2 separate regions of the Homo sapiens genome follow, and region 1 is linked to region 2. Evidence: fine-mapped expression QTL. A gene starts in region 2. The other region holds a variant in brackets. All regions are shown on one strand. Distances are from middle to middle. Region 1 holds the start of UCP3 (uncoupling protein 3). Region 2 holds the start of UCP2 (uncoupling protein 2).

What was found.
Region 1: its variant is fine-mapped to the expression of UCP2 in whole blood (TOPMed, PIP above 0.99).

What each region holds. Positions count from the first base shown.
Region 1 is chr11:73,998,687-74,010,492 of GRCh38, forward strand. It overlaps UCP3 (uncoupling protein 3), which reads right to left and starts at 10,399. Exons shown (of 7, transcript NM_003356.4): 1 at 10,292-10,399; 2 at 8,231-8,451; 3 at 7,483-7,693; 4 at 7,044-7,247; 5 at 5,798-5,899; 6 at 5,141-5,321; 7 at 1,591-2,840. The coding sequence starts at 8,356. The coding sequence ends at 2,726. RefSeq lists enhancers at 5,329-6,528, 10,008-10,647 and a silencer at 9,694-9,874. The variant A/G (reference allele first, on the strand shown) is at 6,738.
Region 2 is chr11:73,975,918-73,987,723 of GRCh38, forward strand. It overlaps UCP2 (uncoupling protein 2), which reads right to left and starts at 6,926. Exons shown (of 8, transcript NM_003355.3): 1 at 6,804-6,926; 2 at 5,559-5,715; 3 at 2,336-2,560; 4 at 1,969-2,179; 5 at 906-1,100; 6 at 724-825. The coding sequence starts at 2,461. RefSeq lists enhancers at 4,452-4,511, 7,763-8,263 and silencers at 6,837-7,046, 7,347-7,506.

The DNA.
Region 1 (11,806 bases), 23 kb after region 2:
TAGACTTGGCAGTTAGTAGGCTCCTGATCCCAGTCAAAATATCTCTTAGAATATTTTATCCTCCCTTTCTCAGAATCATCACCTGAATAGCATCCTCTGGGTAGGTGGTGTGTTAATATTGCCATATGGAAATTCATGGAAGATATAGTTCCTGGCCCTAGAAACTTACAAACTGAGACCAGGAGTTTGAGAGTGATTTGCACATGTCAGTCAAGTCAAAAGAAAGAGAAACTCTTTTTTCTTTTTTCGTTTTTGTTTTTTGAGATGGGGTCTCACTCTGTCACCTAGGCTAGGGTGCAGTGGTGTAAGCTCGGCTCACTGCAACCTCCGCCTCCTGGGCTCAAGTGATCCTCCCACCTGAGCCCCCCGAGTAGCTGGGACCGCAGGCACATGTCACCATGCCTGGCTAAAAAGGGAAACTTTTAATTTAATTCAATTCAATTTAATTTTTTTTTTTGAGACAGAGTCTCGCCTAGGCTGGAGTGCAGTGGTGTGGTTTTGGCTCACTGCAACCTCAGTCTCCTGGGTTCGAGTGATTCTCTTGCCTCAGCCTCCCGAGTAGCTAGGATTACAGGCACCCACCACCATGCCTGGGTAATTTTTTTTTTTTTTTTTGGTATTTTTAGTAGAGACAGAGTTTCACCATGTTGGCCAGGCTGGTCTCAAACTCTTGACCTCAAGTGATCCGCCCGCCTCGGCCTCCCAAAGGCGTGAGCCACTGCACCAACCGGAAACTTTTCAAAATATGGGTTTTATTTGAAAACCAAGCCAGACATTAAATCAAAATAATTTTTTTTTGCTTTTGTATGAACTCTCCAGTTTGTATACATAGATGATCTCAAGTTATAATTTAAATTTAGGAAAGTGCTGAGGATGAATAGATATTTGCTTTTTCCCAGGGTCTGGAGGGGTAGGAGCAGGGAAGCAGGGAAATGACATTACCGAGTGCCTCCTGTATGCCAACGATTTTTTGTTTGTTTTGTTTCAGAGAAGGAGTTATGCTCTGTTGCCAAGGCTGGAGTGCAGTCATTATTCACAGGTGCAGTCATGGCTCACTGCAGCCCTGAACTCCTGGGCTCAAGCAGTCCTCTCGCTTAAGCCTCCCAGGTAGCAGGTGCACACCACATGTCTGCTTTCCAAGGAGTTTTAGGTCAACCCTCACAACAAGCCTGTGAAGCAGCGATTGTTATTCCCACTTCTCTGGTAGCACACCAAGGTGCAAGGATTCCCTGTGGCTAGGTGGTTAGTAAGGTAGAATGGGGTGAGGTTTGAACCCAGTCCTGACAATCATCAGAGCTACGCAAGGCTGCCAAGAAGTAGAAAAAGATAGTGGCATTTTGGGTCCCCATTATCAATTCGAAAAATGTACAGTCTTAAGCTTGGAAGTCGGTCGTCTGGTTCAACCCTGCCTTTTGCAGAAGCAGGAGCTGGAACCCTAAAAAAATAAAGCTACTTGCCTGCAATTAAACAGGGTGAGAGGGGGCAGATGAAGTGTAGGCATGTGGGGCTGGATCTGGCCCTGCCCTGACACATAGAAAGCCTGAAATAGAAGTGAGAAAGGAAAATTCCAAGAAAGAAAAGGCAGAGAAGTGGCTGTTCTTACTCCCACACCTAAGGTGTGAATTCTTTTATTGAGTCATAATAATTTCCCGAGAATTCCGAGTCCTGCTACTTTAGGTTCTTGCCCAGGAATCCACCTCTTTTCCCCCAAGCCCAACAATCCTTTGAGGTACTCATGATTGAGCACGTGGTGGGGGGGGTGGGGAAGAGGCTGCATGGGGGTGGGGCTCCTGTGGCTTCACGTCATCCACTGTCACCTCTGGTCCCCAAGTCTCTGGATCCTTTGGTCTCACCTCTAGACAACCGTATCTTTCAAACCTTCTTCCCTGGCAACTCCTCTCTGTCCCGACAAAATCTCTCCCAAGGCATTGTCCTTGTAGTTAGATTTACACAGAGCTTTTGCTTTTATAAAGTGCGTTCATGCCCAGCTTCTCACTTGCATGTCATAGCACCCCTGGTGAGGTGGACAGGGAAGGGATGGCTCCCTCCATTTTGTAGGAAAGTGGGGGCTGCCCTCTTGATTCTTCAGTGTCGTCAGGGAATATTTACGAGCCCCAGCCTCACATGGGCCCAGCAGGGCTTCTTTAGCACAGGCTCTAGTTTTTTCTCTTGTTCCTTGGGTTTCCTAGAATCCCAAAGGACTCTCTGTGGCAGACATATTACAAATAGGCTGATGATGCATGTGTGATGGTGCAGCTGCAGTCGCCAGCTCTGTGTTGCTGGGTGGCATCCCTCCAGGCTCCGTGGCTGATCTCCCACTCCATTGTGGGCCCCTCCTGTCCCGTGCTTGCCATCCTTCCTGCTTATCATTCATTATCTAACCAGATTTCACGGGGATACACGTCTCCAACCTTCCATTTTGTCCAAATGGATCTATCTTGGTTTATTTTCTCTTGCCTAAATATTAGGCATGCCTAATGGGTTTCAAAAATTAATATAATTTATTTTCCATCTTGTCAGTGCAAAACAAAGGTGTTCTTGAGGCATGGCAGTGAAGACCAGAATCCCTCCTCCTCTTCTACTTCTGTTTCTTGAATCAGCAACAAGTAAACAACAGTTCTGTAAACATGTGTGGGTCTGTGTCCATGTGTGCGTGGATGCACCGTTTTCTTCCATTCTTAACTGGTTTCGGACACGTTAGCTACCAGTGGCCTTCTTGTCTTGTTCAAAACGGTGATTCCCGTAACATCTGGACTTTCATCAGGGCCCGTTTCAGCTGCTCATAGGTTACGAACATCACCACGTTCCAGGATCCCAAACGCAAAAAGGAGGGTGTAAATCTGATAAGAAAAACAACCAACACATCAGGTGGAGTGCTAGGGGACCACAACAGATGCGTGTGCTCTCCCGGGACACAGTGGTAGTGCCAGAGGATCCAGACTTCTGTTCATCACAAGCATTTTCTGAATCCTTTCAGTCTCTCTCTCTCTTTTTTTTTTCTGCTAAGGGGATTTAGGCAGAAGTCGGAGTAAGGAAAAGAAAAAAAAACTCACGTTTTGAGACGGGTTACTGTGTTAGGCAGCGAATTCTCACAGTTCTATAAGGCAGCCATGTTGCTGCCAGGCTCTTTTTCACAAACTGAGGCCCAGGGAGGTTAAGAGCTCAACCAAAGACCCGCGGCTAGTAAGTGTCAGAGGTGCGGTTCTAACTCCACCCTGCTGCTGGGTGTTTCTGGGCTCAGTTACACCCCGGGTGGCCAGCCCTAACATGGCCCCCTGCCAGGACATGGAGAAGCTTGGGCTTTGCAGGGTGAATACAGTGTGGCACCAGATTTAGCTCTTCTCCAGAGAGGCTGGCTGTGCTGTGATGGCATAGCACAGTGTCCCCACCTCAGCTGTGGCTCACCAACTCAGGGAGAAGCCCACGAGCTGGCCCCTGCCCCTCTCTCAGCCTGTCCCTCCACTAACCACCTCCTGGGCCCGTTTGCTCCCACCAGACTCAGCTAGTCACATTCCCTGACGATGCCAGGCCCTCTTCCCTCCATGCCTTTGCTCCTCTTGCTCCCTCTGCCTGGACTGTCCCCTCCTCTCCTCCTTCCCTGGCTGGTTGCTCTTTGCTCTGGAGGACTCAGTTTGGGCACTGTGACCTCATGCCATGGGTTTTCTTGACTCTTGTGGGGACGATAGTACTGTGACAACAAATGTAAACTCTGGAGTCAGACCTGGGTTCAAATCCAAGCTCTCCCAGTTTCTAGCTTTACAATCTGGACACATCACTTAATCTTTCTAAGCCTCAGTTTCCTTATCTGTAAAATGAGGAAAATAACAGTATCTGCCTTGTGGAGTTAGTCGTGCAGATTAGGTGAGTTAATGTTGGACAGCACTCAGCACAGGGCCCAGCATCAATACATGCTCAGTAAATACCACCAACTTATCTGCTGCTCTTTGAGGGAGGCATAACCCAGGGCCTGGCACCTACAAGATGCTCCAGAAATGTTGGACAAGTGAAAGCAGTAACTGAGACAAGTGGCTACAGCTGAAGACTGTAATGATAGAGGCACTTTTTGGAAGAACAGTCTGTCAATTGCAGTATAGTTTTATTACGTCATTCCCAGGCTTGAGAACCTATAGCAGCTCTTGTTCACTTGTTGGGTCCATTCTAACACTGGGCACCAAAAAACTCTCTGTTGAAGACATCAGCAGTGGGAGGTGAAAGGGCCAAGCTAAGAGCTTACCAGTAGGATAAACAACATTGTTGGGTGTGGTGTCTGACGGTCAGGGTTTGAGCCATGGCTCCACCATTTTAACCTGTGATCTTGGATAAGTTACTTAACTTTTCTGACACTCAGTCTTTTCCTTAGTTAATGTGGACAATACTACCCAGTTCAAGGGGCTGTTGGGATAACGTGTGTAAAGTGCTCAGCACGAGGCCTAATATAGAGTGACTTAGCTATTGTGATAATCATAAACAACCTGCATTATCGAGTGCTCACTTTGTGTGAGGGACTGTGGGAGATAAAAGATGTCTGAGCCACTTTTGCTGTCAGGAACTTGCTCTTTGCATGAGGAATAATTTAAGCTTACAAATACTATAATACAAGGCAGGAGGTGATAAATACCATAAAAATGGTATCAAATGGCATTGCAGAAGTTCCCAGGGAGGAGGAAAAATTTACACCTGAGAGTGTTAGGGAGGAGGTGGCATTTGAACTCGTCTTGAAGGATGGCTAAAATTGACAGCCTGTAGATGATGAGGCATTCCACGCAGAGGGAGCAGTAAGTGCAAGAAAACGTGGAGCGTGTGGAGACAGTGAGGAAGGCACTGGCCATGGTCAGTGTGGTGCTCAATGGCCATGGCAGGAGGTCCAGGAGGTCTCAGGATTGCTAACTTCCTCTGGAGACAGGCAGTACTTTTACCTATTCCTGGAGTGTTTGTTCTCAGTCAGGCTTCCCTAACCCTCCCCATCAGGTATGGTTCACTTTTTTTCTTTTACTTGCATGGTTTTTTAAACTTCTTCTTTGTGGCATTTACATCTGTACTCTTCACCGCTACATCCCAGGTTGACCCACGGTAGCCACATTCGAAAAGAAAGAAGCCCCTGTTCTCTGGGAGGGAGTGCTGGAGGCAGGAGGAGGCTCACCCCTTGTAGAAGGCTGTGGGGCCCTCCTGGGCCACCATCTTTATCATACAGTCGAGGGGGCTGAAGTACTGGCCTGGAGGTGAGTTCATATACCGGGTCTTCACCACGTCCACCGGGGAGGCCACCACTGTGGCACAGAAGCCGGCTCCAAAGGCAGAGACAAAGTGGCAGGGGAAGTTGTCTGCAGAGGAAGGACAAGCAAATATCAAGGAGTGCATTTGTGTTCTGTCCATATGTATGCACTGTTTGTCCCCAACTCAACCGTGAACTCCCTGAGCATAGGACAGTATTTTCCATATCTCTCACAGTGCCCTGGGCTAAGCTCTTGGTAAGTACTGGCAAACTAGGCCTGGGCTGACCCAGAGGTGGGAGGTCATGCAGGCTGTTTGAGGAAACTGAAGTCGGAGAAGGTGAGAGACCCCTGCTTAAAGCTATATAGTGAGAGGTGGTGCTGGGACTGGAACCCAAGTCTCCAGCCTCCCAGCCCAGGGGTCTTTCCTGCTTGTCACCACAATGTACCTGGCACTTTTTACTAGGCACTGCTTCTCTCTCTGCTCCTTCTAAAACCCAGTTGCCTCTGGGTGGTGCCCACTCCACGGAGTTCTGGGTTCCCTCCCTGCTGAGGGAGAGCTGCCTGCCTGGAGCCCAGGGCCTCACCAGTGAGCAGGTGGTAGTCCAGCAGCTTCTCCTTGAGGATGTCGTAGGTCACCACCTCAGCACAGTTGACGATAGCATTCCTCATGATGTTGGGCAAAGTTCCTGTTAGGAAGGCGGTGGGGAGGGATGTGAAATGGGTGGGGAGGGAGGAATGGGAAATGGGAGAAATGGATGCCCTGGCTGCAAGGCCACAGGCCCCAGTTTTGGGGCCATAGTGCCCCATTCCAATGGTCTCAGCCAGAGGATCCCACCCCAGCTGAGCAGATTCCACATTTTCCTTTCTAGGGTTAACAACTCTCAGATTATCCATGTTTTCCTCAGAGACAGAGAACAGAGAGGCCCACTTGTGTTCATTTGGCCACATTTGGAGGGTGATCTGCAATAGCTGTCAAAATTAAAATATGCTTCCTGGAGACCCAGCTGCAGCCAGAAAAGAAAGTCATTCAGCGAGAGGCTGAGCTCTTGGAACAGTGACAGAATGTGGTGCCAGCAGGGCCCTAGGAAACTGTCAGGATCAAACCCCTGGTTTCACAGGTAAGGGGACAAGCTCTGAAGGGTGCCCAACAAGTGAGTGAAGAGCCCCAACTTAAGAGGTGTCCTGCCCTTAAACTTCACTGGGTCAGTTTCTTCTGCAAACGTTCCTGCAACCTCTGGTTCACATGCGGAGAGAGTCCTGCATTCATCGCAGTGGCTGCCATGTGGACACATAGGGAGCCCTCCAGCTTTGCTCCCAAGGAAGCGCTTCCTCGTTGCATCTCCCTGCGCCCACTCCTCACAGCTGTGCTTTTCTGATGCTCCTCTTTTTCCTCCGGACCCTGCTTGAGGGCCCCTCCCCTTCCGTCTCCACACACCTAGAGCCTGTTCAGTCTTCCAGGCCCAGCTTAGGTGTCACCTTCTCTGCAGAGCCCGCCTCTGGAGCTCCACCTCTGGGGCAACCCCT[A/G]CCACATCCTGCCTGTGGTGTAGCTGCATCTTATCTCCTCTGCTGTCCTCATGCCCTGGGCGTGTGAAGGTGTCTTAAGTTCATTTCTGGCTCCCTCACATCAACCTGCACATGGCAAAGGGCTGGTAAAATGAACTGAGTTTGAGGGGCTGTGGCAGGTCAGTGAAGTATCTTTGGTTGTGATGTTCTTTCAGAATCACTGGAACACGCCATGCTGGGAGTCCCCTCCTTACTGGGGTCCCTGCCCCAGCCTGAGGGGAGGGAAAGCTCTGCCTAAGACCGCCTGCGTCCAGAGTCCAGACCTACCTTTCCACAGGCCCCTGACTCCTTCCTCCCTGGCGATGGTTCTGTAGGCGTCCATAGTCCCGCTGTATTTTCTGTCGCTCCTGGATGGCCCGAGGTGTATGCTGGCCTGAAATCGGACCTTCACCACATCTGTGGGCTGGGCACAGGTCACCGCCATGGCTCCTGTGGTGCAGCCGGCCAAAATCCGGGTAGTGAGGCTGGAGTCTGGGAGGGGCAGAGAGAGTGGGCCAGTGTCCCCTACTAAGCAGCATTCTGGGACATGCTGTTCTCTGCGGGGCTGCCCCTGCAGCTTCCTTGATGTCCACTCAGAGCCTCCTCATAAGCGTCCGGTACCAGCTTCCCCCCGCCCCTGGCTCTGCCTCTGAGTCTAGACTTCCCTGGTCTCTTGACCCACACACTTTCAGCCACCCCTTTGGTGTTCAGGGACCTGGTCACTCACTGTCCGCGCCTTTGGGGGTGTACACCTGCTTGACGGAGTCATAGAGGCCGATGCGGATGGAGGCGAAGCTCATCTGGCGCTGCAGGCCGGCCACCAGCCCATTGTAGGGGCTGCAGGGACCCTCAGTCCGCACCATGGTCAGGATGGTGCCCAGCACGCCACGGTACTGCACGAGCCGGGCCGTCTGGACCGCCTGGTTCTCCCCCTGGATCTGAGGGACAATAGCAGGGGGTGAGGACTCAGATGGGAAGGCAAGAAGGGGCTGCGTGCACAGGAACCCTGCTGGGGCTGGGCCTGCCTGGGCTGGGCCTGAGAACAACCATGCTGGTCACAGTAGAAATCACTGGTGTCTGCGCAGCATTTTACCATTCACAAAGCAGTATTATACACATGGCTTGGTGTTTGATCCTCAGAGTAAATCAGAGGGACAGATTGTTTTTCCCATTTTATAAGTGCTTCGTGGCTTGCCCAAGGTCACACAGTTAATTCCTTACTTTTACCTCACACTGCATGCTTTACAAAGTAGGGCCTAGCCCATAAAGGGCCCTGTCACATCATGCAAAGAATTTAGATTTTTTTGTCCTGGTGGATGGTGATGGGAGGAGGCAAGGAAGGGTCCTAAGCAGTGGAGTGAGAGTCTTTGTCAGGGTTCTGAGGAAGGGCATGTGGGCACACGTCATGGGGGATATGGGAGAGAACTAGCCCCTCCTTCCATGTGATCAATGACCCTTGGCCAAAGGGCACCTACCTGCAGGCGGACCTTGGCTGTGTCCAGTGGAAAGGTAACGAGGTCAGCAAAACAGGCTGCTGTGCCTGCCCCCAGGAACTTCACAGCCATGGTGGGAGGCACGTCTGAAGGCTTCAGTCCAACCATAGTCCTGGAAGGCTCTGCCCAGTCCCTTTAGGGCCGAGAGGAGGTCCAAGGAGAGAGGCTGCTCCACAGCCCTGGGCTTCAGTGCAGCGGTGGGGCTGCAGGAGACAGGCCAGAGAAGGCTGATGGAGTGATGTCTGGCCTGGCTCCCAGGAACTCTTCCTTACCCAGGAGGGGCTTTAGAAAGGGAGAAGCCTGGGTGGTGCCATACTTAAGCTGCATGAATTTGGCCTATAAAAACAGGTCACGTTCCTATCCCTTGAATTTTGCAATCCTCCTCCTGACCCTCTCCCTCCCCTCCTTACCAGGGGTAGGCAGAGCTGATAGTGGTACCTGCACTGTATACATGAGGAAACCGAGGCTCAGGCATCTGTTCTCCCCAATATCAAACTGCCTCCTTTTTTTTTTTGAGACAGGGTCTCACTCTGTTACCTGGGCTGGAGTGCAGTGGTGCAATCCAGGCTCACTGCAGCCTTGACCTCTTGGACTCAAGTGACCCTCCCACCTTCAGCCTCCCGAGTAGCTGGGACTACAGGTGTGCATCACCATACCCAGCTAATTTTTTATTTTTTGTAGAGATGGGGGTCTCTCTATGTTGCCTATTCTGGTCTTGAACTCTTGGCCTCAGCGTGATCACTTGACAAGAGGGGCAGTTCTTAGCCACTCATGGAAAATGGAATGGATGGACACAGACTCAGGTCAAAAGCCCACCTTGGGGCTCTAGAACTTTCAGTAGTCAAGCTGCGGGAGGAGGGAAAGCCACAGTGGTGGGCACAGGTAGGAGGTGCCTTGAGGCCAGCACTCCCCAATCTTCTTCCCAATTCACTCCAGACTCTCCTAGACCCCTAGCAGCCGGCAGCCTTTTGCCACTGGCCAGTGGAGGAAGAAGTCAAAAGTGGAACCCTCATTACTGTAGCTCTGCTGGGGCTCCTGAGGGATGGGATGTTCTAGTCAGCATGGTCCATTAATGTTTGCTGGTTGCTTCTTGCACCAGATACCGTGCTGAGGGCTTTACAGACACTGACTGATTTGATCCCTTCATAAGGCTACAAGTAGTTGCTATTATTATTCTCATTTCGTAAACCAGGGACCTGAGGCTTCCAGGGCTTTTGCTAGTCATACAGCTGAAGTGCTGGAGCTGAGATTGGTGCCCACGTTTGTCTGACATCTGAAGCTGCGCCTGTTTCACTGCCCAGAGAGTCTCAGACTTCAGGGAGAGCCAAGGATCCCTTGAGCTGCTTGTTTACAGAGCAGATTCTCAGCTCTCAGCCCCAGAGATCCTGATTTAGGTCTGGGGTGGGGCCTAGGAATCTGCATTAGGAAAACTCCCTGTGGTAGCTCTGAAGCAGGGGAAGAGGACCCCATTTTGAGACATCCTACCCAACACCAGTTGCCTCCCCAACTCCAACCCACCCTCCCGGCAAAGCCTTCACAGCAGCCCACTGAAGAAGCCGTCTGGGCAGAGACCATGGGCTCTGTAAAGCTCCCAGCAAATGACCTGGACCACGCCTCAGGTCAGAAGTGCCCCTGTCATCCCTACTCAGGAAGAGGGCCCCAGGGTCCTCATGGAAAGAGAGGGATTTATGCTCTGGAGGAATCGCAGAGATTCTGGGGCAGGCAAAGAAGAAAGCCACTTCCTGTCTATGGGGATTTGCAAAATCCCACCAGAGGCAGCCAGCAAGGCAAAGGGGGTGTGAGTCTTGAGTGAGTGACACGGGTGTTGGGTTCAAGCCCCAGCCCTGCCACAGTACCCTCATCAAGGCCACAGCTCCCTTTTCATAAGGTGGCGGCTGGACTGAATCTCTATCAGGTCTGACAAGCTGCAGCTAGTGAGCCCTGACTGCTCGGGGCTGCTCTCTGAAAGCCTCCAATGAAAGGGAGAACAAGGAGAAGGGAGAGGGAGAGGGGAAGGGATGAGGGAGGAGAAAGGGGTCTTACCTGTGAGTCCTGCCACGGCAGGGGCAGCACAGGGGCTCCCTAGGGCTCCATCCCAGGAGGTGGCAGCAGGGATTGGATGGCCCCTCCTTGTCATTCACTGTTGTCTCTGCTGCTTCTGGCTTGGCACTGGTCTTATACACACGGGCTGACCTGAAACCTTATCCTAGAGAAGTTGGTTGACAGCCTGATCACTTGACAAGAGGCTGGCTGGTGAGGGCAGTGAGGTGAGAGGGGAGGTGAGTGAGTTCCAGATCTGGTTCAGTCCTCTTGACTTGGGGTGCTTTAATATAGCTCCTTTAAGCTGTGGACGCTTCCTTGGTGACAAGGGTGTATGGGGGGGTGGACCTGCTGCCACTTTTGAGTCCAAAGGTCAAGGCCTCCCACGATAGGCTGGGCACAGCTCTCCCAGGTCTCTTAATAATAATGTCATTTCTTTGTGCCTACTATGTGCTAAATATTTTACATACATTACTACTATTTTCCACAATCCTATGAGATAGGTACTATTAGGATTCTATTTTTTTTACTTTTTTTTTTTGTAATTTAAAATTTTTTAGTAGAGACGAGGTCTTGCTGTGTTCCCCAGGCTGGTCTTGAACTCCTGGGCTTAAGTGATCCTCCTGCCTCAGTCTGGCAAAGTGCTGGGATTATAGGTGTGAGCCACTGCACCCGACCTAATTTTTTTTTTTTAAATTACAGATTTATTGATATAGAATTCACATACCGTACAATTCATCTGTTTCAAGTGCACAATTCAAATGGTTTTTAGTATATTCTGAGTGGCACAACCATCAACACAATCTATTTTAGAACATTTTCATCACCCTCTCACCCTGGAAAAACTCCATACACATTGGTAGTCACCTCCCTTCCCCCGCTCCCCAGCCTCAGGCAACCACTAATCAATCTACTTTCTGTCTCTATAAATTTGCCTGTTCTGAACACTTCCTAGAAATGGAATCATCCAATATGTGCTTGTTTGTGACTGGCTTCTTTCACTTAGTATAGTAATGCTTTCAAAATTCATCCATGTTGGAGCCTGTATCAGTATTTCGTTTCTTTTTAGTGCTGGGGATCCTAAAATCTTACCACTTATTTTACTGAGGAGGAAATGGAATCTCAGGGAAGTCATGTAGCCAGCACGTGGCGGGGCCTGACTCCAGCCTGTAAACTGTAAGGCATTTTGGGCTTATCTACTGTGACCACCATTCTCTCCAACATGACACTTGGAGGCTTTAGCATGGACACTGCTGGAGCCAAGGGAGCTGGGACCTGGTGGAAGGGTGCCCCACAGAAGCTACTGGAGGCTCCATCTGTGGGCACTCAGAGTAAGGGCTGGGCACAGCTGAATCGGGCCCCAGGTGATGGGGGAAGGGGAGAAGAAGAAGAGAAGGGAGGGGAGGAGTGAGAAGCAGAAGGGAGGGAAGGAAAGGGAGTTAACTGGGTAGGGCAGAGGAGGAGTAGGCAGAAGTCTTTTCTGGACTGGGGCACAGAGCCAGCGTCACAGGGCAGGTG
Region 2 (11,806 bases):
CCAGGCACAGTGTGCATGCCTGTAGTCAGCCCCAGCTACTCAGGAGGCTGAGGTGGGAGGATTGCTTGAGTCAGGGAGGTCGAGGCTGCAATGAGCCATTAATCACCCCACTGCACTCCAGCCTGGGCAACCGAGCAAGACCCTGTCTCAAAAAACAAACAAGAGGATGGGGCGCAGAGGCTCACACCTGTAATCCCAGCACATTGGGAGGCCAAGGTGGGCAGATCACTTGAGGCCAGGAGTTCGAGACCAGCCTGGCTAACATGGTGAAACTCCATCTCTACTAAAAATACAAAAATTAGCCAGTGTGCTGGTGCACACCTGTCATCCCAGCTACTCGGGAGGCTGAGGCACAAGAATCGCTTGAACCCAGGAGGAGAAGGTTGCAGTGAGCTGAGATTACACGGGTAACAGAGTGAGACTCTATCTCAAAAAAAACAAAAAACAAACAAACAAAAAAACAAAAACAGACAGGGACTCCAGCTGAGACATCTTCTGAGGACCTGAAAGAGTCATTTTGCCAATCTAGCCTCAGTTCCTCAATGTGCAAAGTGGGAGCTTCATCCCAATTGGCTTCAATATGGCAAGTAAGAGATATCTTACTCTCCCTGCAAAGGGCAAATAGGATGAAAAGATGTGGTCTTCTGGTGTCAGCTAGACCCCCGCACCTGCTCCTGGCATGGGGGAAGGGTGAGACCCAGCACCGTCTACCTCATGACTCACCTGTCATGAGGTTGGCTTTCAGGAGGGCATCCTTGATGAGGTCATAGGTCACCAGCTCAGCACAGTTGACAATGGCATTACGAGCAACATTGGGAGAGGTCCCTGTAGGAGGAGGAAGATCCTGGGTGAGACCAGAGTATCGGGGAGGAGGAAAAGGGGAAGGGAAAACAACTGGTACACACCTTTCCAGAGGCCCCGGAACCCTTCCTCTCGGGCAATGGTCTTGTAGGCATTGACGGTGCTTTGGTATCTCCGACCACCTCCAGCCCGGGCCTGAGCTTGGAATCGGACCTTTACCACATCCGTGGGCTGGGCCACAGCCACAGCCAGGGCACCTGTGGTGCTGCCTGCTAGGAGGCGGCTCCCAATGCTGGCATCTGTGGGCGAGCCATGGGGTCAGTGGCCAGCGGGCTTGCACTCATTTTCTACCTCATCTCTCCTCACCAAAACCACCCTGTCACTGTCATCTCCTGCTTTTGGGAATAGAATCCAGAAGCTTTTGGCCTTCTACAAGCTCTTGCTGTAAGAACTCCTCACATCAAACAAAATATCCCTATGAATATCTACTTCTTGCTAGGGACATAGCAAGGGCTAAGACCAAAATGAAACTTGGTGCTTTCTTTCATAAAACATTTTCATTTACCTGCTCAACAGCCCTGAGAAATCACAATCATTTCCATCTGACAAATGTGAAAACCAAGGCTCAGAGAGAAGTGGCTTTCTGAGGACTGGGATTCCTAAGACTTGGGATCTCAGGTCAGCTTTACTTCTTCCTGCCATGTGATCTGGGAAAGACAACCTTTTGTCTGGGGCTCTGTTTCGTCATGTGTAAAATGGAGGGTTGGCATGGCATACTAAGGAGGTGAAAGGGAAGAACGCTGGCCTTAGAGACGAGTGTCCTGGCTCTCTACTGTGTGTTTTCTGGCTCTCTACTGTGTGCCCCTGGCCAAGTCCCCACTCTACCCACTGCCTTCCCACCTCAGTCTCTTCTTCTATAACACTGGGATGATACTACCTACTCCCAAGGTGGTGTTGAAGACTGTGATGGGATGACGCCCTGCTCAGAGCCTGGTATAGCCCAGGTGCTTAGGAACTATGTGGAGGACCAGGGCCCCTTCCAGTTCTCTGTTCCCCTGATCTTCCTAGGGATCGTGGGGCCTAAAAAACTATATGGCTGAATGAACTAAGATCAATCATCACTGAGAAAAAAGGGCCAAGGGGCCTACACCCTTGCTCCATACTCACGCTCAGAGCCCTTGGTGTAGAACTGTTTGACAGAATCATACAGGCCGATGCGGACAGAGGCAAAGCTCATTTGGCGCTGCAGGCCGGCAACCAGCCCATTGTAGAGGCTTCGGGGGCCCTCAGTACGCACCATGGTCAGAATGGTGCCCATCACACCGCGGTACTGGGCGCTGGCTGTAGCGCGCACTGGCCCCTGACTTTCTCCTTGGATCTGCAAGGCCAAGACAGGGTAGCTACAGGGATAAGCATGTTGCCCTTCCCACCTCCAGTCATCTCGATGCTCCAAACACTGGCCCTTGAGGGGTCTGTGTCTTTGGGGAGGGAACAGAGTAGACACCATCAAGACTCCCAGGCTTCATCCCCTCACCTGTAACCGGACTTTAGCAGTATCCAGAGGAAAGGTGATGAGATCTGCGATGCAGGCAGCTGTGCCAGCCCCAAGAAACTTCACAGTGGCAGTAGGGGGCACATCTGTGGCCTTGAACCCAACCATGATGCTGATTTCCTGCTACGTCCCAGGAGATGGAGAAAAACTGGAGACAGGGGCACCTTTAATCAGCAACAAGACGAGATAGAGGAACTCTGCCGGAATCTAAGCCAAGAGGAGAAAAGCCCCATTAGCCACAATGTCCCCAGGCCCTCCCTGCTCACCATCCCCAAACTCACCTTCCCTAATAGAACCAAGTCCCTCAGCAAGACTCCAAGTGGCCTCATGAGGGAAAACCGATGTGAGCTCGAGAGGCACTCAGTTAGGTGCTGGTGAAGCAATTCCTGCTCAAGCAGTCAATACTTCATGAAGGGCTCCCTCCCTTTCACTGCAGGGAGAGTCTGGATCAGAGCTCTCCTAGCGCTGCCTCATAAACAGCCACTGGACCAGCCCTTTGTCTGCTGTATGCAGAGATTTCACTGATGATGCCCACATTCCTGCTTCTGTGGTTCATCTGGAGAGCTGACAGAAGTAGAGAAAAGTTTCACCCAGACTAAGACCCAACAGGCACAGACCCATAGGCTTATGTTCTGGATGTCTAAGCAGGAATGGTTGCTACAGGTCTGGAACTTAAGTCAAGAAGAAAAGGTACAAGATGACTAATTCAATCCCTTCCCAGACCATCAGTCTAATTCTCTCCTCCAGCTCTCACACAGCTTAGGATCTCTAGAGTCATTGTTTTAGCAAGACTGCTTTGCTGGGCAGTGGTTCACTGAGATGCAGGAGATAGTATCTACTCTAGAGGAGGCTTACTGTTGGGCACAGGGGGTGGATGGGCAGATGATTCAAGCTGCATTTGGGGCTTACAGGACATACTCTCAAAATGCAAAGGAGGGAACAACTAATGCCATTGGGAGAGAAGGAAGAGTGGGTGATCAGAAAAGACTTCTTGGGCTGGGTGTGGTGGCTCACGCCTGTAAACCCAGCACTTTGGGAGGCTGAGGCGGGCGAATCACCTGAGGTCAGGAGTTTGAGACCAGCTTGGCCAACATGGCAAAACCCCATCTCCGCTAAAAATACAAAAATGAGCTGGGTGTGTTGGCACACGCCTGTATTCCCAACTACTTAGGAGGCTGAGGCAGGAGAATCACTTGAACCCAGGAGGTGGAGGTTGCAGTAGCTGAGATCGTGCCACTGCACTCCAGCCTAGGCGACAGAGCAAGACTCTGTTTCAAAAAACAGACAAACAAACAAAAAAAAACCTAGCACTTTGGGAGGCAGAGGTGGGAGGACTGCTTGAACCCAGGAGTTCAAGACCAGCCAGGGCAACATAATGAGACCCTGTCTAAAAAATATAAATAAAAATAAATTAGCTGGACATGGTGGTGCAGGCCTATAGTCCCAGCTACTTGGGACGATTGCTTGAGCCCAGGAGGTTGAGGCTGCAGTGAGCTGTGATTGTGCCACTGTGCTCCAGTCTGGGTGAGAGAGTGAGACCTTGTCTCAAAAAAAAAAAAAACAAACCCCAAAAAACCTAAGGACTTCTTAGATAAGGTAACATTTAGCTAGGTGATTTTGGGGGCTGAGAGTAAACTCTGGGGCATTAGACTCCTCCTGGCCTACCATGTGATGCAGAGAAAACTGCTCTCCTTTTTGTTTGGGCCAGTTTCCTTTCCTCCAACTTAGGGGGATCCGCACTTACACCACAAGACAGGCAGGGATGAGGGGTCCAGGTCAGAGCTGTGAAGAGTGATAAAGTAAACCAAAAGCCCCATTTTGTTCTGAGTTGGAACCACACCCTCCTCCACTGCCCCAGGAGGAAGTGAGCCCAGCACCCTAGTGGGGGAGGGTGACCTGCTTCTTCCCCTGAGCTTATTTCTTTGACTTCATTGGAGCAGCTGCTTTGAGCCCCGCCTGACTGCCTTTGTTGCTGGGGCTCAGGTGAAAGGGCTGGCTGGTGAAGGGAGTCAGCTGTGAACACAGAGACCCATGGAAACAAACAGCTCACCCAGCTTCCTCTTGGGCTTCTCACTCCAGGTGGCTGGGGCAAGCAGGGAAATGAAGATACTCACCATAGCAACTACACTGGGACCTATAGAACAGGGCCTGACCTTATTCCTGTTTCCCTCCAGCTTGCCCACGAGGCTCAGTGAAGACTGGTGCTCAAATGACAGATTGGGTTGATGAAGGTGCCCTCGGACTCCCCAGATTCCCTGCTCTGACACCCCCTTCCCCCAGGAGGTGCTCCACAACTTTCCCCACCCCAACGCCCAGGGCACTGTATTAGCTCAATCCTCAGAGCAGCCCTGCAAGGTGGCTGCCCTTATTTCCATGTGAGATGAGTAAGAGCCACACTTACAGGCACCAAAGCTGGTAGTATTTGCTTTGCACTGCTGCCCAGCTCCTCAGTTCGTTCTTGCTGTTTTATCAGCCCCAGGCACAGACAGGGCCTTTCACAAGGAAAGTTCTCACAGGCTGATTAAACAGTACTGAGAAGGCTCAGGCAAATGGTATCCCTTCTCTGGGCATCAGAGATATGATGACATGAGTCTGTCACATTCCTGACCTTGAGCTGGGTTGCAGGATGTTGTGAAGGCCAGAGAAGAATAAGACCCAGCTGCTGCCCAAAGACAAGTGCACAGAGGTTCAGCTGCCATATTCTGAATGTTGCCTTGGGCTTGCCAAGTCAGGTCCTTCAGAGGGTGGGTAAGATGGCCCTACTAACAGCAATTAAAATGCAGGACTAGAAATAGTTAATCCTATTTTACAGTCCCCAGCAAATAACCAGTTTCAGAGCCGGGCTGATTACCAATCTCGGTTTCAGGGATAGTCAAAAGCTAGCATCAATATGAAGTTAGAACAATAGGTTCCTGTCCTAGCTCTTCTGCTGGCTCCCGGGATGACTTGGGGCCAATCACTGTTACACGTGGGCCTCAGTTTTCTCCTTTATAAAATGGGGACCAAGATCCTTGGCTTGTCCGAGTCAGCTGAAGGGCCAGAATGAGAGCGGGGAGGTGTGAGAGTGCTCTGTGAACTGGAAAGAGCCACTTCACTGTCGGGGGTGGGGATGGTAATTATTTTTGTTAATGCCCTGCTGACTCCTGCCCCTAGACCACAGGGTTAGGAGGCAGCAAGAGACCTCTTCCTTGGACTGGACTCTTACCCGGCTTTGTAAGGTCTCACGGTGAGGCCTCCAAGATCAAGCTTCTCTAAAGGTGTCCCGTTCTTCAAAGCTGCCAGTGGCTATCATGGCCCGATCCCCTTGGTTTTCCATAGAAAATGGGTGGGAGACGAAACACCTAATGGTCATACTATGTGTCCTGTGGGTGAGCAAAGGCAGAGAGTTTAGAAAGGGCCACCTGCCCCAAGACACACAAGCCCACCCAATCCATGCCTTGGAGGGGGATGGGGAACAGGGCCCAGGGACTGGTTAAGTGCACACACTGGAAAGGGGAAAAGCAGGGCGGAAAATGAACCTAGGTACACTCCCCACCCCCACCCCACCTGCTTAATATCACAAATTGGTTCTCATCCAGACTTCTGCTTTTGTAACACTCAGTACTCTATATAAGCACCCCCTAGCACAGTCATCAGACTTTGGTGAGTGGGAGAGTTGTGAGGGGGTCACGATGGGACAGAGACTCTCCGGGAATTGGCTAGGTCCCAGGTCGGGCTGTGAGGAGGTTGGAAGGGCTGGGAGCCGGCCCTGCAGAGGCCAGATTGAGCAGCTCAAAGCCCACTAGAAAAAGCCCCCAAGCCCTGGGAAAGGCGGTGCAGGAACACTGCCTGGAGCTGCCTGGTAAGGGAGAGGTCATTGTGGTCATCGCTGATGGTCCCCATCCAAGGCAGGGCTCGGCATCGTGGTGGAAAGGAGGGAGTGAAAAGGTGGAGGCTCAAACGACAGCCAACTGAACGGGAGAGGGAAAGAACAAAAGGGACTAAGAAAAAGAGAGAAGAGAAATAAAGAACCAAGGACAGAAAGGATTAGCACAGGCCGGACCCGGAGGCTCATGCCTAAAATTCTAGGACTTTGTGAGGCCGAGGCGGGCGGATTGCTTGAGCTCAGCAGTTCGAGGCCAGCCTGGCCAACATGGCGAAACCCCATCTCTACAAAACACAAAAATTAGCCAGGCGTGGTGGCGGGCGCCTGTAATCCCAGCTACTCGGCAGGCGGATCGCTTGAACCTGGGAGGTGGAGGCTGCAGTGAGCCGAGATCGCGCCACTGCACTCCAGCCTGGGAGACAGAGCGAAAGCCTGTCTCAAACAAACAAACAAAAACAAAAAATAAAACCGAGAGAAAGAAAAGAGTACAAACTTGGGTGGGAGAGAAGGTAAATGGAAGAGCGGGCAGCGCACGCAGAACAAGCGTGGGGGGCGCAAAGGGCGCAGGGCTGGGGCCAGGCTCACCGAGCCGCAGGGAGAACACGGCAGTGCGTGCGGCTGTGTCTGTCGGCTGGCGGAGGGCGCGTCGGACGAGCCGGGCGAGCGTGGACAGTCAATCCCAAGGCGCGCGCAGCTGGGCTTCGCAGTGGGGCTCCGCGCAGGCGGCGGCGCGGCTTAAGCCTCGGGGGCGGGGCCCGGGGTGGGGCCTGCGGGGCGGGGCCGGGCCTGCCAGCTCCTACTTGGGTGCGGAGACCCTGGAGCAGCCGCCTTTCCGCGGGGACCGCCCCGCCTAGGGTTCTCTCCATGACTTTCTCCACTCCCGTTTCCGTGCGTCCCATCACCGCGTTTACTCCTTCGTTCCCCGAGATGGTCACTCCCTTGCCACTCCCCGCCTCTGCCTCACACTCTCTCGGGCCGCCAACCTCTGTGAGGATGGCAAGACTGACCGCCAGAAACAAGTCTTGTCCAGTCACACACCTCTTGCCTTCCCAGCCAGGACGGTTTCTAACAGCGTCCAGCGGGGCCGTGTCTTAAGTGCACTTCCTCTTTTATGGGCCCAGCCCCCCTACGCTGGGCAAACTACCCACCCTCCTGCGAGCGAGCGCGCGGCTGGCTCCTGCAGGGCGGGACTGGGGCCTCGCGACCGGCCTCGCTGTCGATTGGTTACAGCCGCCGCGTTGTCGGGGGAAGGAACCAATCAGAACTGCAGCAACAGGTGGCCCGGCAACCGACAACAGCCGTTGGGCTCGGCTGGGGTTCGCGCCTTCTCCCCCGGTGGAGCGGCCTGGCGTTTAGGGACCAGGACACTAAAGGCCCCGGCGGGGCGGGAGCACCCAGCGTGACCTCACGCTCCTACACACAGACAAGCAAACGGGCCGGCCCCCGCACGTGACAAGGCAGAGCCGGGCCCAGGCCAGCTGCCTGTCCAGCCCTGGGATGAGAAAAGGCGTCAGGAGATGGACCGGGCCTGGTTCGCCTTTAATTGGCTGACCCGTCCTGTGGGGGTAACTGACGCGTGAACAGCCAACAATTGGGCCCTCTGGCCGGGACAAACACGTGCGTTTGGGGAGTAGAAGAAGGCTGGTATTAACCTCCATTTTACAATGAGGAAACGGAGTCCCAAAGACGTTCAGTCATCTTCCTGATATTCACACACTTACACCCTGGTCAGGCCGGCGCCATATGTGTTTTCACCAGCAGAAGGGACTGCCAGGGAACAGCTGAGGGGACCAGAGCTGGGATGGGCCTGGATAATTATAGCGGAAAGAAAAACACGCCGAGCGCATGGTCCTGGCAGAAGCAGCGTGGAAACAGAAGTCAAGGCAGATTATTTCTGCCATGAGGAGATCTTGCCATGTAGGAAAAAAGAAAGAAAGAGAGGAAAGAAAGACAGAGAGAGAGAGAGGAAAGACAGAAAGACAAGAAAGAAAGAGAAAGAAAGAAAAGAAAAAAAAAAAGAAAAGATAAAGTTTTTTTGTGGCACTGTGAGTCTCCCTCCGCCAGGTTCTCTAGCTTTTGCGCTGAGCTCTGTCTGGCTGTGCATTCCGGAGAGGCTCGGCAAATTTGCTGTGAGATTGCTGAGCAACAGCAGAACAGATGCAAAGGCCTGCAGACCAAAAATTGTCCCCCTGGCTGTCCAAACAGGGAAGAATCTGGATTCCAGAAACTATATACTTATTATCCTTGGCAAAAGAGACTGTTAAAAGTGTGGACGCTGAAAAAGGGAAGTGGAGATCAACAGGACGCAGCATGAAGTCCTTAAGAAGTCCTCTTTGAAAAAGAAGATGTGTTTAGGGTTTAAACTATTTTTATTATTTATTTATTTAACTTATTTTTTGAGACAGGGTCTCTTTTTGTTGCCCAGGCTGGAATGCAGGTGGCTGGGTCTCAGCTCACTGCAGTCTTGACCTCCTGGGACAAGCAGTCCTACTTCTGCCTCCCTAGTAGCTGGGACCACAGGGATGAGCCACTAAGCCTGGCTAATTTATTTATTCTTTGTAGTGACAGGTCTCCCTATGTTGTCCAGGCTGCTCTTGAACTCCTGGCCTCAAGCAGTCCTCTGACCTCGGACTCTCACAGTACTGGAATTACAGGTGTGAGCCACTGTGCCTGGCCTCAAGAAATTCTCTTAAATTCTTTCAGGGTGGGGGCAGATCTGAGCAATCCTATAGACATACAAACGCTGCACCCTTGGATTTTTAGCAGCTTGCTCAAGTCATAAGATGTCCTGTGGACAAACTGGAGAATGTATGGGTACAGATAAATGTATTTTGAAAACTTGTAGCCAGGTGAGGTGGCTCACGCCTGCAATCCCAGCACTTTGGGAGGCTGAGGCGGGCAGATCACCTGAGGTCAGGAGTTGGAGACTAGCCTGGCTAACATGGTGAAACCCTGTCTCTACTAAAAACACAAAAATTAGCTGGGAGTGGTGGTAGGTGCCTGTAGTCCCAGCTACTCGGGAGGCTGAGGCAGGAGAATCGCTTGAACCCGGGAGGCAGAGGTTGCAGTGAGCTGAGACTGCGACATTGCACTCCAGCCTGGGCGACAGAGCAAGACTCTGTCTCAAAAAAAAAAAAAAGAAAACTTGTTTCACATCTATTTCATTGAATTGTGTGTACACGCACACACACACACGTTTATTTGTAAATATTTTGTATGTGCCAATAACCAAATTGACAAAGTTTCATATATTTTGTTGTATAATTTTAACATCATCCCAGGAAACAATCCACTGTGCTTACAGTTTTGGAACTTCTAAATCTTTAAATACAAACTGTATTTGAAACACTGAAAATGAAAAAAAGACACAAGAATGAAAGAGAAAACTGAAAACATTAGGTAATTAAAACCAACATGAGAAAAACTTAAACATTTCCTTAGTCTCTGATAATTTCTGCTAAAAATATTGAGTAGATTGGCTATATTAACTTTCCTCCCCTCATCAAACAAGCATACAGTTATCTGATTGCATTTTTAAAAAGAAGTCGAATTTGATAACCATACATTTTAAAAATTGACATGAAACTGAATTTCTTTAAACCCACTTAGCAGATGAGATGGGGCACGGTGGCTCACACCTGTAATCCTAGCAGTTTGGGAGGTTGAGACGGGTGGATCACTTGAGGCCAGGAGTTGAAGACCAGCCTGGCCAACATGGCAAATCCCTGTCTCTACAAAAAATACAAAAATTAGCTGGGCATGGTGTTGCACGCCTATAGTTCCAGCTACTTGGGAGGCTGACATGGAGGATCACCTGAGCCTGGGAGGTTGAGGCTGCAGTGAGCCATGATTGTGCCACTACACTCCAGCCTGGGTGACAGGGTGACCCTGTCTCAAAAAAAATAAAAAATACCTGTAATCCCAGCACTTTGGGAGGCCAAGGCGGGTGGATCATGAGGTCAAGAGATCGAGACCATCCTGGCCAACATGGTGAAACCCCATCTCTACCAAAAATACAAACATTAGCTGGGTGTGGTGGTGCTTGCCTGTAGTTCCAGCTACTTGGGAGGCTGAAGCAGGAGAATCGCTTGAACCTGGGAGATGGAGGTTGCAGTGAGCTGAGATCCTGCCACTGCACTCCAGCCTGGCGACAGAGCAAGACTCCGTCTCAAAATAAAATAATTTTAAAAAACCTCTTAGGAGATTAAATTGAATCATATATTTGTTAATTTCCATGTCCATTTTGATGTTTGTTCTTCTTCTTGGTTTTGGTTTCTGAAAAAAGGGTGGGGAAATGGTGACACAAAGCCAGATGGAATTACTTGACATGTTTGTCACATAATTAACCATTGTAAATGAATTTTCCTTGGTAACACATCCTGGTTTTTTTTTTTTTTTTTTTTTTTTTTTTTTTTTTTTTTTGAGATGGAGTCTTGCTCTGTCGCCAGGCTGGAGTGCAGTGGCGCGATCTCGGCTTACTGTAACCTCCATCTCCCAGGTTCAAGCGATTCTCCTGCCTCAGTCTCCCGAGTAGCTGGGATTACAGGTACGTGCCAACATGCCCAGCTAATTTTTGTATTTTTAGTGGAGATGGGGTTTCACCATGTTGGCCAGGATGGTGTCTATCTCTTGACCTTGTGGTCCACCTGCCTCGGCCTCCCAAAGTGATGAGATTACAGGTGTGAGCCACCGGGTCTGGCCCACTCCTGTATTTTAAAAGTTGAATTGAAAAACACCGAGTTAAAAGATGCATTTTTTCCCATGAATTGTGTGAATGAAATAAAGCTAAATTCACAAAGCATGAACATAGCAGTCGTTCTCATTTTGCTCACAGTTCTAAAAATGCAAATTCTCCCCAACTTCTTAGAGCATGACAGGTGTTCAGCTGGCAATCTTTCCATGTTTACATAAGAAGCTAGAATTGATCATATGGTTTTACAGTGCTTTCCCGAAAATCTGTGATTGTTATTAGATTCTGTTTTTCCTCTATTACCTCTCAAAGGAAATAAAGCAGCAAATTACTCCCATATTTTGAGCTCTAAATTCAAGAACTACTAAATTCACTGCCAGCCATTACAAATATTCAGTTCTTTATTAAGGTACACATCATTACAGTAGGCTCAGAGTGCTAATACATGAATAATAACTATAGTTAGTAAAACAATGCAAATGGAGATCAGTTTAAAGAGCCCTGATCAATGAAGTAATTTTCAGTTGAAAAATTGTAGAAGGTATGTATTAAAAAGCACTAGTAATATATGATAATTCAATAAGTCATTGAATGAATAAGTGAGTGAATCCAACTAACTAGAAATTATTTTGATATATTAGTTTTCTTTTGTTTTTTCTTTTTTTTTTTGAGATAGAGTTGTGCTGTGTCGCCCAGCCTGGAGTGCAGTGGCAAGATCTTGGCTCACTGCAACCTCTGCCCCCCAGGTTCAAGCGATTCCTGCCTCAGCCTTCCAAGTAGCTAGGATTACAGGCACACACACCACGCCGTGCTAATTTTTTGTATTTTTAGTAGAGGTGGGGTTTCGTCATGTTGGCAGGTTGATCTTGAACTCCTAGCCTCAATAGATCCACCCACC